Linked DNA regions of Homo sapiens: region 2 is linked to region 1. A link means that fine-mapping ties the variant in region 1 to the expression of a gene that starts in the linked region. Tissue or cell type: whole blood. Region 1 holds a variant in brackets; the other region holds the start of a gene. All regions are shown on one strand. Distances are between the middles of the regions.

Evidence for each region. PIP is the estimated chance that this variant, and not a neighbour inherited with it, causes the effect.
Region 2: it holds the start of MDM2, and the variant in region 1 is fine-mapped to the expression of MDM2 in whole blood (TOPMed, PIP 0.96).

The regions. Positions count from the first base shown.
Region 1 is chr12:68,784,025-68,792,223 of GRCh38, reverse strand. No RefSeq gene overlaps it. Among named protein-coding and RNA genes, the nearest start is that of MDM2, 20 kb to the left of the region's middle. RefSeq lists enhancers at 3,871-4,424, 4,425-4,979. The variant C/T (reference allele first, on the strand shown) is at 4,482.
Region 2 is chr12:68,803,938-68,812,113 of GRCh38, reverse strand. It overlaps MDM2 (MDM2 proto-oncogene), which reads right to left and starts at 3,937. Exons shown (of 11, transcript NM_002392.6): 1 at 3,623-3,937; 2 at 2,822-2,906. The coding sequence starts at 3,636. It also overlaps the pseudogene SZRD1P1. RefSeq lists enhancers at 2,960-3,349, 2,449-3,648 and a silencer at 3,850-4,239.

The sequences.
Region 1 (8,199 bases):
CTGGGCAACATAGGGAGATGCCATCCCTACAAAAATAAAAAAATTAGCCAGGCATGGTGGTGCATGTGTGTGGTCCCAGCTACTCAGGAGGCTGAGATGGGAGGATCACTTGAGCCTGGGAGGCCGAGGCTGCAATGAGCTATGACCTCACCACTGTATTCCAGCCTGGGTGAGAGAGCCAGATCCTGTCTCAAAAAAACAGGGAGTAGGGCAATTAAATAGTAAGAATTTGATCATGATTGTCTAGCATAGGAATAATCAATTCACTGGAAAAATACATAAAAATTTCTAGGCCTTTCCATAGCTGGAAAGAAATAGCTTCCTAAATTAGTCTACTCCCTTACCTCTGATTATATGGTCCTTAAAAACTTCCTGCTAACCAGGCCGGGCGCAGTGGCTCACGCCTGTAATCCCAGCACTTTGGGAGGCTGAGGTGGGCAGATCACGAGGTCAGGAGTTTGAGACCAGCCTGGCCAACATGGTGAAACCCCATCTCTACTAAAAATACAAAAATTAGCTGGGCGTGGTGGCAGGTGCCTGTAATCCCAGCTACGTGGGTGCCTGTAATCTCAGCTACTTGGGAGGCTGAGTCAGGAGAATCGCTTGAAACTGGAAGATGGAGGTTGTAGTGAGCCGAGATCGCACCATTGCACTCCAGCCTGGGCAACAAGAGTGAAACTCTGTCTCAAAAAAAAAACAAAAATAAATAAATAAATAAACTTCCTGCTAACCTATCTAATTTCACAGGTACCTTGATGCAAAGGAGATGCTCATGGAGGGGAAATGCATTGTTTAGGTAGATCCACCTTCCAAATTAAGGAACTGATATTCCAGTGTATAAATCAGTCTCTTTAATTTTTTTAACATTATTATTATTATTATTAAGACGGCGTCTCGGTCTGTCACCCAGGCGGGAGTGCAGTGGCGCAATCTCGTTTCACTGCAACCTCCACCCGCTGGGTTCAAGTGAGTCTCCTGCCTCAGCCTCCCTAGTAGCTGGTATTACAGGCACCTACCACCACACCTGGCTAATTTTTGTGTTTTTAGTGGATTTCACCATGTTGGCCAGGGTGGTCTTGAACTCCTCAGGTGATCCGCCCACCTTGGCTTCCCAAAATGCTGGGATTACAGATGTGAGCCACTGCATCCAGCCTTTTTAAGAAAATTTTTTGAGATAGAGTCTTGCTGTGTTGCCCAGGCTGGAGTGAAGTGACACGATCACAGCTCACTGCAGCCTCAACCTACTGGGCTCGGCTCAAGCAGTCCTCCTTCATCAGTCTCCCAAGTAGCTAGGACTGTAGGTAAGCGCCACCACACCTGGCTAATATTTAAATTTTTGGTAGAGACAGGATCTCCCTGTGTTGCCCAGCCTGGTCTCAAACTTTTGGGCTCAAGCAGTCCTGTCTCAGCCCCGTAAAGTGCTGAGATTACAGGCATGCATGCCTGGCCTCTTTAATTGTTTAAACATCTTAATCCATACAGTTTTTTTTTTCTTTTTTTCTTTTTGAGACAGAGTTTTGCTCTTGTTGCCCAGGCTGGAGTGCAATGGCGTGATCTCGGCTCACTGCAACCTCTGCCTCCTGGGTTCAAGCAATTCTTGTGCCTCAGCCTCCTGAGTAGCTAGGATTATAGTCATGCACCACCGCGCCACCCCCCTCCCCCCTGGCTAGTTTTGTATTTTTAGTAGAGATGGGGTTTTTCCACTTTGGTCAGGCTGGTCTCAAACTCCCGACCTCAGGTGATCCGCCCGCCTCGGGCTCCCAAAGTGCTGGGATTATAGGCATAATCCATACAGTTTTCTTAATTTCTAATTCTATGATTCCATCTCCAGGGCTTTCGCATCTGGTCCATAGAAGGTACTTAGTACATTTGTTGAATGAATAGATGACCACATCATTGCTGTTGTTTTGTTTAAAATTTTAAATGTTATGAATCACAGTCATTTTCTTCCCCATGGGATTACTATGTAAATGATTTGTTTCTGCTGAGGGATTATAGGCCGACAATTTGAAGTAGAGCTAATTATATTCAAGGCAGATTGTAAACATCTCATTCATTTATTCACTCATTCAATAAAAACTTGCTAAGTGCCTATTAACTTGGATGCTCTGCCCTGGGGAATACGATAATCATAATTTTTAAATTTTTTTAATTATTATTTTTTTGAGACAGAGTATTGCTCTGTCACCCAGGCTGGAGTGCAGTGGTGCAATCTTGGCTGACTGCAAGCTCCACCTCCCGGGTTCCCGCCATTCTCCTGCCTCAGCCTCCCGAGTAGCTGGGGCCACAGGTGCCCACCACCATGCCCGGCTAATTTTTTGTATTTTTAGTAGAGACAGGTTTTCACTGTGTTAGCCAGGATGGTCTCGATCTCCTGACCTCATGATCCACTTGCGTCGGCCTCCCAAAGTGCTAGGATTATAGGTGTGAGCCACCGCACCCAGCCAATAATCATAATTTTTAAAAGAAACTGTCCCAGCTACTCAGGAGGCTGAAGTAGGAGGATCACTTGAGCCAGGGAGTTCGAGGTTGCAGTGAGCCGTGATGGTGCCACTGCACTCCAGCCTCGGTGACAGAGCAAGACCTTGTTTCAAAAAACAAAACAAAACAAGAACTATAGTTCTTGTTTTTTTTTTTTTTTTTGAGACAGTCACCCAGGCACATGCCACCGCACCTGACTAATTTGGTTTTTTTTGTATTTTTAGTAGAGACGGGGTTGCACCATATTGATCAGGCTGGTCTCAAACTCTTGACTTCAGGTGATCCACCCGCTTCAGCCTCCCAGAGTGCTGGGATTACAGGCGTTAGCCACCGCGCCCAGCCCAAAAACTATAGTTCTTACAGTGGAAGGTGGAAGGAGTTGCAATTGAAAATAGTTAGATGTTCTAAGCAGCATGTTGATAAAGGTGGGGAAACCAAGCTGTGTGTACTTAGAAATGGGAGAAGACTAGTAATCATTAACTAGAGAGGTCTATTGATCTCTAGGGCCTCACTCATCCAGCAGAGGTTTAGGTGGCAAGCATAAGGTTAAAAATCCCAGGCCTTTCCAGAAGACTGGTGAGTCACATGGACGGGTGGACCAAGAACTGTTGGACATTTAGTTGCTTTCCTATTTTTTTTGCTATTATCAATAATGTTTCTCAGCCTGATGGTGCACACCAACTTAGGAGACTGAGGCAAGAGGATTGCTTTAGCCCAGGAGTTGGAGGTTGCAGTGAGCTATACTCGCACCACTGCACTCCAGCCTGGGCAACAGAGCAAGACCCTGTCTCTAAAAATGATAATAATAATAATGCTGTGATAAACTTCTCTGCACAAAAATCTTTATGCAGGGCTGGACGTGGTGGCTTACACCTGTAATCCCAGTACTTCAGGTGGCTGAGGCCAGAGAATCACTTGAGGCCAAGAGCTCAAGACTAGCCTGGGCAACAAAGAGAGACCTTGTCTTTACAAAAAAATTAAAAAAAAAATAAAAAACTTAGGCACACTCGGTGTCATAAGCCTGTAGTCTCAGCTACTCAGGAGGCTGAGGTAGGAAGATGGCTTGACCATGGAAGTTTGAGGCTGCAATGAGTTATGATCTTGCCACTGCACTCCAGCCATGGTGACAGTGAGACCCCATCTACAAAGAAAATCTTTTTGCACATCTTTACTTTCTTAGGATAAACTCCTGAAAGTGGATTTTCTGGGTTACAGGGCATGAGCATTTTTGTGGCTATGCAATTTATGGTCTCATGATGAATGTAAGATGGTACTTGTTTTCCCATACCCTCGACAGGACTAAATTTGGGAAAACATGGATTTATAGGTCTCTATGAAAATTAAAATGTTTCCCAATTTTATATGTTTAAAAATTTCATTTAAGAACAATTTAAATCCATTGGAAAGAGCTGTAGAAAAAGGAATTTGTAGTAAAAGGGATTTGCTTTGTGTTGTACTTCAGTGAGTGCTGGGTCTTTTTTTTGTATTAATATTCCCAAGTTGAAGTAGAAGTGTTCATCAATGCTTTAACTTGTGGGCTTAAAGGAGAGGTGTGATACAAGGAAAAAGGGGTGGTGGAAAATATTTTTTAAAAAAATGTAACAGGCCGGTTGTGATGGCTCACACCTGTAATCCAAGCACTTTGGGAAGCTGAGGCAGGTGGATCACTTGAGGTCAGGAATTCGAGACCAGCCTGGCCAACATGGTGAAACCCCGTGCCTACTAAAAATACAAAAATTAGCCAGGCATGGTGACACCCGCCTGTAATCCCAGCTACTTGGGAGGCTGGGGCAGAAGAATTGCTTGAACCCAGGAGGAGGAGTTTACAGTGAGCCAAGATCGTGCCACTGAATTACAGTCTGGGTGACAGAGCGAAACTCCATCTCAAAAAAAAAAAAAAAAAGGAACACGATAAGAAATCAAGGCGAAAAGAAGAAAAGAACAAACATGGGAAAGGAAAATGATGGGAAAGCAGGCAGGCCCGGACTCTGGCCACCGCA[C/T]GGGCTTTTGCCTGGACTTGCCCATTTTCCTGTGTCATTGCTGTCCCATGTTTTCAGTTCACAAGTTGAGCAACTGCAGCTTCCTTTATCATTAGAAGAGGAAATGAAAGAGCAAGGGTACAAGTAATTACTGGGGCCAGCACAGAATGTTTTTTGTTTGTTTTTTTCTTTTTTTTTTTTTTGCCCGGCTTGTTTTGTTTTTTTAGAGGGAAAACCCATGTGTTGCAACTTGTTCAATCACCAGGATTTTAGTCCTCTGACCTTCAGACGTTAGTCATTCCTTCCTCTTAAACAGCTCCTTCCCTAGTTTTTGAACTGGTCTTTGGGTTAAACACAACAGGGCCCTTCTAACCTCTCAGAAAAGTCTGAGAAATAAATTCAAATTCTAATAAGTAGTATTTCTGAATGTTAAAATATGTATGAATTGGCTACATATTTTATATTGTTAGTTCTCTCAGGATCTTTCCTATATAGTGAAATTCACTGAGCTAAAATGTAATGTTAAATACTTACAAGAGGCTTTGGTTATAAAATGACTGAAGAGGAATTTCTCTATAAATAGGTTTAGGTTTAGGAAACCTGCAATAGCAGTGGCTCCACCTAAAGACCAGAAAATGACACAGTCTAACTGTGATGTTTTCAAGCTTAGAGGCGGTCATTCACTTTAAAAGTAAAGCGACATGGTTTTTATCTCTCACCACCTTGCTTAAAAGTGATGCAGATAACTTAAAAAGTGATTTAAAAACATAAATTCAGCACATAAAACACATAATCCATAAAACACAGCACATAAAAGTATGATAGAAAATTATTTAATAATTTTAAAAAGTAAATTGTAGTTACTCTTAAAAGAAGACTAGAGTCTTTGCCACAGTTAAAAAGTAAGTAAGGTTAGGCCAGGCGCGGTGGCTCAAGCCTGTAATCCCAGCACTTTGGGAGCCCAAGGTGGGCAGATCACGAGGTCAGGAGTTCGAGACCAGCCTGGCCAATATGGTGAAACCTCCGTCTCTACTAAAAATACAAAAATTAGCCGGGCGTGGTGGCAGACGCCTGTAGTCCCAGCTACTCGGGAGGCTGAGGCAGGAGAATCGCTTGAACCTGGGAGGTGGAGGTTGCAGTGAGCCGAGATCGTGCCACTGCACTCCAGCCTGCGTGACAGAGCGAGACTATGTCTCAAAAAATAAACACATAAAAATAAAATAAAAAGTAAGTAAGGTTAAAAAGAAAGAAAAGTAAACTAGAGTCCAGACCAAACTAGACCAGAACTTTCCTAGCAAAATTGAAACAGTTATTTAGCTGAGTGTGGAAAGGTAAATCCTATGCATCATGTCACAAGTACACACATCATTGCTAGGTGGGATGGCTCATGCTTGTAATCCCAGTGCTTTGGGAGGCTGAGGCAGGAGGATTGCCGGAGCCCAGGAAGGTGGCTTGAGACTGCAATGAGCTGTGATTGTGCCACTGTAGTCCAACCTGGGGGTCAGAGACCCTGTCTCAAAAAATAAAAAACAAAAAAACCCCGCAACAACAACAAAAAAGAAGTTCACCATCAACCAGTTTATTGATTTACTGCCACTATCCTCTTGGCCAAGTATCAAAATATTTTAAGCATGAATTTGGCTGTGACCCTTAATTCATTAATTAATTCATTTACTTTTAGAGATAGGGTCTCGCTATGTTGGCTAGGTTGGAGTGCAAAGTCTATTCGAGGCATGACTGTAGTGCACTACAACCTTGAACTCCTGGGCTGAAGCGATCCTCCCACCTCAGCCTTTCAAGTAGCTGGCACCACAGGCTCACACCATCATACCCAGCAATTCATATATTTAACGAATATTTACTGGCACAGTGCAAGGCATTTAAAATATAGCCTGATTAAAACATATATAACCTGTGCCTTTTTTGAGCTTGCAGTATAGTAAAGGAGAAATACAAGAAGCAAATAAATATATAATTGCAAACTGGGATGAGGCATTAGAAGGAAAAGAACTGAGTTCCTAAAAGAGAGACTAGCAAGGTTGATCTTGCTAGTCTGAAATCTGACTGAGATACCATGAGTAATGATCACTTGATTACTCAGAGAACTGCAGCATTTTGGTACAGCTGGTGGTACGTTAATATTTCCTTGTTCATATCTGTGTCCTTGCATAACTTTTTAATATTTGGCCATGCTCTTTGGCCTCTAAATTGAAAGCTCTGTGGTGAAAGGCACTATCTTCCACTTCTTCCTAATTTTCAGAGTATAATACGGGGTGCTGTGTGCAGGACTCATGCTCCTGACTGAATAAAAGACTATTTCTTTGAGTCTAATTAGTTGGGAAAGTCCCCTTGGTTAGATTGCTTTGCCTAATAATTTTGTATTCCTAGCATTTCAGAGTGCCTGGCAGCCGGGTGCAGTGGCTCATGCCTGTAATCCCAGCACTTTGGGAGGCTAAGGCGGGCAGATCTTCTGAGGTCAGGAGTTTGAGACCAGCCTGGCCAACGTGGTGAAACCCCATCTCTATTAAAAATACAAAAATTAGCTGGGCATGGTTGTAGGTACCTGTAATCCCAGCTACTTGGGAGGCTGAGACAGGAGAATCACTTGAACCCAGGAGGCAGAGGTAGCAGTGAGTTGAGATCACACCACTGCACTCCAGCCTGAGCAACAGAGCGAGACTCTATCTAAAAAAAAGAAAAGAGTGCCTGACATAATCAGTGCTCAATAAAATCTGTGGAATAGTGAATAAAAGACCAAATGGATGATTAATTTTTTCACTATACTGATATACCCATTTTATTTTATTTGAGATGGGTTCTTACTCTGTCAGCCAGGCTGGAGTGCAGTGGCACAATCATGGCTCACTGCATCCTTGACCTCCCCAGGCTCAGGTGATCCTCCCACCTCAACCTCCTGAGTAGCTGGGACCACAAGTGCATGCCACCATGCCTGGTTGATTTTTGTATTTTTTGTAGAGACAGGATTTTGCCATGTTGCCCAGGCTGGTCTTGAACTTTTGGGCTCAGGTGACCTTCCCATTTTAGCTTCCCAAAGTGCTGGGATTACAGGTGTGAGCCACTGCACCCAGCTGATATGCCTGTTTTCGTGTCCAGTTAAATCACTCACTTAATCATTTATTCAACAGATAATTATTGAACACATACTAAGAACCAGGCATTGTGCCAGTACTGGGGATACGAAGGTAAACAGAAACAGACAAGATCCTGCCCTTGTGGAACTTATACTCTAGTAAGTACTTTAAAGTCAGAGGTAGACTATTGATCAAGCAGATATAGTATCCTTTTTGGTGTCGAGAGAGAAAAGGAATGTGTCCATACCTTAATGCAACCATATAATTCCCAGAAGTTAGAGCAGGGCTCCTTCATGAGCAGAAGGTACAGTCTGTAATTAGGGCTGAGAGGCAGGTGGCTACGCCCTGGACTGGGGTTAGTCTCTTGGGTTTAGTCTCTTAGAAAGCAATGTGGTTTGCAGTTCTGTTGCAATCCAGATGATGGAATGCCTACCACGAAGGAGCAAGCCCGACCTCAAGCGATAGAGACCTTTTGAGCTAAGTTCCGTCCTTCACCCAGTGCCTGTGTATTGGAATGGGTGGAGTGGGTGAGAGCGGGCTGAGAGGAAGCAAAGCCGTGGAGATTCCACAATGTTAAGATTAAAGAGAAGGATCAGCACAAACACCTCAAGAATGTGACGTGGTGGGTGGTCTTATTTTCCTTGTTC
Region 2 (8,176 bases), 20 kb before region 1:
AATTTTTATTATATGCTATATTAGCTTCAAATTAGATAAAATAATTCAAAGTAAAAATCTGTAATGGAAGCCAGGTGCAGTGGCTCAGGTCTGTAATCCCAGCACTTTGGGAGGCCGAGGCAGGCAGATCACCTGAGGTCAGGAGTGTGAGACCAGCCTGGCCAACACAGTGAAACTCCGTCTCTATTAAATATACAAAAATTACCCAGGTGTGGGCCAGGCGCAGTGGCTCATGCCTTTAATCCCAGCACTTTGGGAGGCCAAGACAGGCAGATCAGGAGGTCAGAAGTTCAAGACCAGCCTGGACAACATGGTGAAACCCTATCTCTACTAAAAGTACAAAAATTATCCGGGTGTGGAGGTGGGTGCCTGTAATCCCAGCTACTCGGGAGGCTGCGGCAGAATTGCTTGAACCCAGGAAGCAGAGGTTGCAGTGAGCCGAGATCATGCCACTGCACTCCAGCCTGGGCAACAGACCAAGACTCAGTCTCAAAAAAAAAAAAAAAAAAAAATCTGTAATGGAAAGCCATCAGTATATTAGTGACTTAAAAGACATGTATTAATGAGAAAACAGCTATAAAAGATAATAGCATTTGTAATCTTACATTGAAGAACAAGAAGGTAAATTACAGGTGAAGATCTAAATATTTAAAAAATTTAAATCTAGAAGAAAATATAGGAATATATTTGCAAGATCTTGGGACAGGAGAGTTCTTCCAAAGCATGATATGAAATTCAAAAGCCAACAAATTTTACTTCACAGAATTGTTCTCAATGGGGAAAAGACAACATAAAATTAAATGCTACATTAGTAAACAACAAAAGTTAAATATACTTGAAACACATAGAGCTACTCCAATTACTAAGAAAAATTTTAAAAAACTAAAAGGAAAATGGACAGATAAGACTAGGCAAGTCCCAGAAGAAATAAATGACTTAACAAAATGGAGGCCTGGTGCAGTGATTCACGCCTGTAATCCCAGCACTTTGGGAGGCCGAGGCAGGCAGATCACCTGAAGTTGGGAGTTCAAGACCAGCCTGACCAACATGGAAAAACCCCATCTCTACTAAAAATACAAAATTAGCTGAGCGTGGTGGCGCATGCCTGTAATCCCAGCTACTCCAGAGGCTGAGGCAAGAGAATCGCTTGAACCCGTGAGGCAGAGGTTGCAATGAGACAAGATCTCGCCATTGCACTCCAGCCTGGGCAACAGGAGTGAAACTCTGTCTCAAAAAAAACAAAAACAAAAACAAAAAGGAAAGGTGCCCAGCCTCACCAAGAAACTAGAGAAAAATGAATTTAAACAATGGTACAGTACCTTTTATCAAAAAAATAGTAATAATAATAAAAGAGGCCAGGCGCAGTGACTCACGCCTGTAATCCCAGCACTTTGGGAGGCCGAGGCGGGCGGATCACCAGGTCAGGGGATCAAGATCATCCTGGCTAACATGGTGAAACCCCGTCTCTACTAAAAATACAAAAAATTAGCCGGGCGTGGTGGTGGGCGCCTGTAGTCCCAGCTACTCGGGAGGCTGAGGCAGGGGAATGGCGTGAACCCGGGGAACGGAGATTGCAGTGAGCCGAGATTGTGCCACTGCACTCCAGCCTGGGAGACAGAGCAAGACTCCGCCTCAAAAAAAATAATAATAATAATAATTAAAGATTGGTGATATTCAGTATTGGCAGGAGTGAAACTGTTAGAGCCTTTTGGTGAGCAAGTTACCAGTAGCAATCAAATAGTAAAATTGAGAACTCAGGAGTTCTAATTCTCTAAAATCTTTTTCTTTTCTTTTTTTTTTTTTTAGACGGAGTTTCGCTCTTATCGCCCAGGCTGGAGTGAAATGGCGCAATCTTGGCTCACCGCAACCTCTGCCTCCTGGGTTCAAGCGATTCTCCTGCCCCAGCCTCCTCAGCAGGGGATTATAGGCGCGCGCCACCATGCCCGACTAATTTTTGTATTTTTAGTAGAGACAGGTTTTCACCATGTTGGCCAGGCTAGTCTTGAACTCCTCATCTCAGGTGATCGGTCCGCCTTGGCCTCCCAAAGTGATGGGATTACAGGGGTGAGCCACCGAGGCCAGCCTATAATTCTATAAAATCTTTCTTACAGAAATAGTCACACGGGATGCATGTACAAAGCGGCACTATCTGTAATACTCAAAAACAGGAGGCAATTTTTAAAAACCTATCAGTAAAGGCATAAATAATTTTTAAAATGGTATACTCATGCTGTGGAATACTATGCAGCCATTAAAAAGAATTCTGTAGACTTTATTTATTGACAAGGATGCAAGTCACAGAACAACTACAGTTTCATCTTGTTAGTACAACAAACAGGACAATAACATAGATTTAAATTCAAATGTAAATATATGTGGGTACGCACACAAAAAATCTAAAAGGAAACATGGAGCAAAAAGCCTGGAATTTTCAGGTTTTACTTTAAAATTTCTCTAATGACAAAAATCTTTAAAACAAGCACGAATAACTTTTTTGACTTTTAGAAACCATTTTTAAAAATTAAATACTGGGAGGTCAAAAAGGAAAAAAAAATCAGTCACGTAACAAACGTAACTTCAACCACGCTTAACAATGTAATGGAACTAATTTTTAAAGCAAATGTGGCAAATGGCTAAAAAAATACTGACCAGTTCTTAACAGTTTTTAACTCCACGCAGTTACGCCAGAGGTAGCACACTTTAAGCTATGCACATACAATTTTATTTACAGAGCCATGCTACAATTGAGGTATACGAAATTTAGTTTATCACTTCATAAAATAAATTATTCTTAAAAGTTACACGAGACAAAAATACTAACCAGGGTCTCTTGTTCCGAAGCTGGAATCTGTGAGGTGGTTACAGCACCATCAGTAGGTACAGACATGTTGGTATTGCACATTTGCCTACAAGGAAAAAAAAGACACGATGAAAACTGGAAATCATGAAACATCTGTGGAAAATACATCATATATAAAGAACATAAACAACAGTTAAAACTAAAGCTACAAGCAAGTCGGTGCTTACCTGGATCAGCAGAGAAAAAGTGGCGTGCGTCCGTGCCCACAGGTCTACCCTCCAATCGCCACTGAACACAGCTGGGAAAATGCATGGTTTAAATAGCCCCAGCTGGAGACAAGTCAGGACTTAACTCCTTTTACTGCAGTTTCGGAACGTGTCTGAACTTGACCAGCTCAAGAGGAAAAGCTGAGTCAACCTGCCCACTGAACCGGCCCAATCCCGCCCAGACTACGCGCAGCGTTCACACTAGTGACCCGACAGGCACCTGCGATCATCCGGACCTCCCGCGCCGAAGCGGCCCCGCAGCCCCCGGCCCCCGTGACCTTTACCCTGAACTCCCGCGGAGACCTCCGAACCACCCCCACCCCCACCGCCGCGAGAGCCGTCCGAAATCCCGCCCTCCTCCCTGGCGGCGACTGCCTAGCCCCAGTCCAACAAAACCTCCGCAAAGCCACGTGCCCCATGCCCCGCGCCCCGCGCCCCGAGCCCCCAGCCACGAACCGCACAAAGGCTGCGAACGGGCAGAGGCTGGGAACCAGCGATAGAGGGGACACCGTCAGAGCCCAGACCCAAAAGTGACCGCTCGCTGCCGGGCCAGTACCTGCTCCTCACCATCCGGGGTTTTCGCGCTTGGAGTCGGGGGTCCCTCAAGACTCCCCAGTTTCCTTCACGGGGCGCGCGGAAGCACGACGCCCTGGGCCTCGGGGATCATTCCACTCTCCGGGCCAGGGCACTGGGCGCTCGTACGCACTAATCCGGGGAGGGACGGTGCTCCTGGCTGCGAAAGCAGCAGGATCTCGGTCAGAGGGGTCGCGGCCGCCCCTCGGGCTCGGCTTCTTGCTCCATCTTTCCGACACACAGGGCCACACAGGCCCCAGAAGCAGCCAAGCTCGCCGCGGTGCCTCGGTGCGCGCCCCCTACCGCCCGAGGGGAGCGCGCGGGTCGTCGCGGCGCATCCGGGCATTTGTGCGCGCGCACACAACCGGCCCCGCTTCCGCCAATTGGGTCCGGGGCTCGGCCGCACCACCTCCGGGATGATGGAGTGGGGGGTGTCGCCCCGCGGGCGCGGCGGGCTGTGAGGCGGGGTGGGGGTGTTGGCCGCGAGCTGAGAGGGTGGGGCTCGGCCTGGCGCGGAGCCAGCAAGGTTTGGCGCTGTGACACTCCTTTAGCCGTTGCGCTATGTTTGTATTTCTTGTGTTTACACTTCCCGCCCGCGGTGGAAACTGCGACAAATGCGGATCTCCGTGTCGCTGTTACCAAAAAGAAACCAAAATTAACAGCTGTTTAATATATTAAGCCCACTCCACCAGCCGCTGGAGTTGTACCCAAATGAGTTATTTTAAGGCCTGTTTTTAAAAAAGATTAAAAATAGCACTTAAGGCAGGCTTATACACCGGTGCATACAGCTGTTCTGGTTGGAGAACGAAGATGCTGGTTACCGTTGGCGGGGAGGGGAGCGGTTACTCTGCGCTTTTAGAATGTTTGGGTTTGGCTGGGCGCGGTGGCTCACGCTTGTAATCCCATCACTTTGGGTAGGCCGAGGCGGGTGGATCACTTGAGGTCAGGAGTTCAAGACCAACCTGGCCAACATGGGAAACGCCGTCTCTACTAAAAACTACAAAAATTAGTCGGGCGTGGTGGCGGTCACCTGTAATCCCAGCTACTCTACTCCGGAGGCTGAGGCAGGACAATCCTGTGAACCCGGGAGGCAGAGGCTGCAGTGAGCCAAGATCATGCCATTGCACTCCAGCCTGGGCGACAGGGCAAGACTCTCAAAAAAACAAAAACAAAGTTTGGGTTTGTTAATCTACACATTCATTATCATTAAAATATATACTTATATATTATGCACTCATTCTGACTCACCTACTTTCCCACAGAGATGTGGCAAAAACGTTTTTGATGCGGTCTCATAAATTGAGGACATAAAGAATTGAGTTAGCTAAACCCAAAAACACAGCCATTGCAAAGAAGGAACACGTTTCTTCTCTGGCCAGTAAGTGATTAGCTCCTTGTGAACAAGGACCTTTTTTTATAAAGTTATATCCTTCCCTTCTGCAGCTTTTTTTTTTTTATAAAGTTATATCCTTCCCTTCTCCCGCTTCCCAGCCTACCAGAAAGGAAACTTCCTTAAACATAGTGGTCACTCAGTTGATTTAAGTTGATTGCCAATATTATTAACTTAAGAGATTTAATATGTGGCTTTTAAAAAGATAATCTCATCTTCATCAGATCATATACAGTGGGGTTTCTAATAGACTCAGTGCTTGACCCTGGATGAAAGAAAATCTCAAGCAGTGAGAAAATGTAAGCATGAAAAGATAAGTGATAGGCTGCGCACGGTGGCTCACGCTTGTAATCCCAGCACTTTGGGAGGCTGAGGTGGGTGGATCACGAGGTTAGGAGTTCGAGACCAGCCTGGCCAAGATGGTGAAACCTTGTCTCTACTAAAAATACAAAAATTAGCCGGGCCCCGTGGCGGGCGCCTGTAATCCTAGCCACTTGGGAGGCTGAGGCAGAAGAATCGCTTGATCTCGGGAGGCAGAGGTTGCAGTGAGCGGAGATCGCGCCACTGCAGTCCAGCCTGGGTGACAGAGCAAGACTCCATCTCAGAAGAAAAAAAAAAAAAAAGAGATAAGTGATAGAGGTTGATATTTGTTAAATATCAAGTGAACGAATGGGTTTGTGCTATAAAAGTTCAGAGACAGAATTAATTGCTTAGTAAATGCTGGAGGCAGTTCACAAAGGCCTCAGAGATCACACATATTTTGTGTCTTGAAAGATGGTGAGACTTAAATAAAAGCAGAGAATATTCCAGGCACAAGAAAATTATCAAAAAATACAGAAAGGAAAATATAAGAGGACTGTTTGAGATACAATAAATAAATCCGTTTGACTTGCATGAAAGTCAAGAAGAAGTTTTAAGAACTTGGAGTCTCCTTAAATGCCAAGCAAGGAAATTTGGGCTTTCGACAGAGTAGACATTAGAAGCATAAAAACAAGTGATTTGCTTCAAACTGTATTTTAACAGGACCACCAAGAGTAGATTCAAACTCAGAATAGTCGGGCCGGCTGCCTTCTGGACCGACTTTCCCCCTTCTCATTGGCCTTGTGCTTTGAAAAAATTATCTTGACAAAATTATTAGAGCAGAAAAAAAAAGGCAGAACTGATAAGATTAGTCCTTTTCTAATGGAACCAGAAAAGAAGGGTCAGAAATGAAGGCAGAAGGGAGAAGCGGGGGTGGGGGAGAGAGAGAGAAGTAAAAAGGATTCACTCAAGAACCTGGTATTCAAAACTACGTGTACCAGCACTACCACAGCAGTATGACTCAGTGTCCACCTAAAGCATGATGATACTGCTTACCAAAAAAAGTCTGGAGGGAATGAAAAGTTGGGTTAGTTTTAAGTTATGGGTCACAGAACAGAATTCGGTGGTAAAAAGCTTAGGCTGGGAACAGAGCTTGAAACAGCAAAGGAATGAGAGGAACGACCAAAAAGCCAAGGACCATATAGTGATGTCTGAAAAATCAGAATCAGGTAATAATATTGAATACTGCAAAAGTCAGAGAAAATGTGGAAATAAGAAAGCAAGCGATCTGGAAAGTGGCGAGTAAGATGGAATATGAGGAGGTTGCTGAGAGCTGGGAGGAGACGGCAGACAGCGGGGAAATAGACGTCTGGAAAAAAAACTGAAGATCACACAGAAAGCAGGAAATTCAAATCTCCCAAAGTGCCCATTGTGATTCAGGATGATAATTTTCCCCCGGGACCCCCTCCACAGGTCCGCATCCTCAAGAGGCCCACCAGCAACGGTGTGGTCAGCAGCCCCAAGTCCGCTAGCAGGCCCGCCCTTCCAGTCAAGTCCCTGGCACAGTGGGAAGCCGAGTACACCGAGGCCAGGAAGCGGATCCTGGGCAGCGCCAACCCGAGGAGAAGCAGGAGAAACCCATCCTCGATAGGTCTTCCTCTGATCTTCTTCCCTTCAGGCCAACCAGGATCTCCTAACCCGAAGACAGCAGACAGCCCAATAATGTGATCAGACAGCCTCTGGGTCCTGATGGGTCACACGGCTTCAAACAGCGCAGATAAATGCAGGCAAGAAGAGATGGCGCGACTGCCGCGTCAACGCGTCCTGGGTCGTCCGCCAAGGGTTGCACTACCGTGGCAGACAGCTGGACTTGAGCAGCGGGAACTTGACTTACTTGCCTGGTGATCCCCGTTGCTCCGCCCACTGTGACCTTGAATCCCATGCACTGTGACCTCCCCCCTTCTCCTCCTTCCCACTGTGATTGGCACTTTGACAAGGACTGTCCCAAGTCAATGGAAAGGGAAAAAGGGTGAGGGTTAGGAGAAGGTTGGGGGGAACCCACCAATTACTCAGAGTAGAGAGTCAGACAGGGCCAGCAATAGCGGTTTATCATGCTCATTAATTTGGGATTTCAAAACACAAATGAACTCACACCTACCCACCCCCAAGTGCATGTCATCACTTAAAAAGTGAGTTCCATTTGAAAAAAAAGAAAGCAAACTACCTGCTCACTCTAAAAGCAGTTGCTGTTGTTTGTGACTTTGCCATTTAAAAAAATACAGACCAGCTGCTGCTGTTTGCTTGCATTCCACAGTTATCTTGTGTCACTTTGCCCTTTGTTGTGCTTACTTGAAGTTTCTCTAGAGGCAAACTGCTTATTTCTAGTAGCGTTGTTCTTGATGCCCAAGAGGTGTTCCAAGAGGTTGAGATACTTTGAGTGTCTTTATATTCTCTGGGACCTAAACTCTGCAAACAAGGCTCACACCTGTAATCCCAGCACTGTGGGAGGCCAAGGCTGGAGGATCTATTGAGGCCAAGAGTTTGAGACCAGCCTGAGCAACATGGCGAAACCCTGTCTCTATAAATTGCAAAAAAAAATTAGCCAGGCGTGGTGGCACTCACCTATAGTCCTAGCTACTTGGGAGCCAGAGCTGGGAGGATGGCTTGAGCCCGGATAGGTTGTGGTGTGATCCTGCCACTGCACTCCAGCCTATGTGACAGAGTGAGACCATGTCTCAAGGGGAAAAAAAAAAGTCTACAACAGACTTATCTTGACCCAAGGGCCACTTCGTACTTGTATTTATTAGTCATAACTAATCTTTTGTCTTTCTTTTTTTTTTTTTTTTG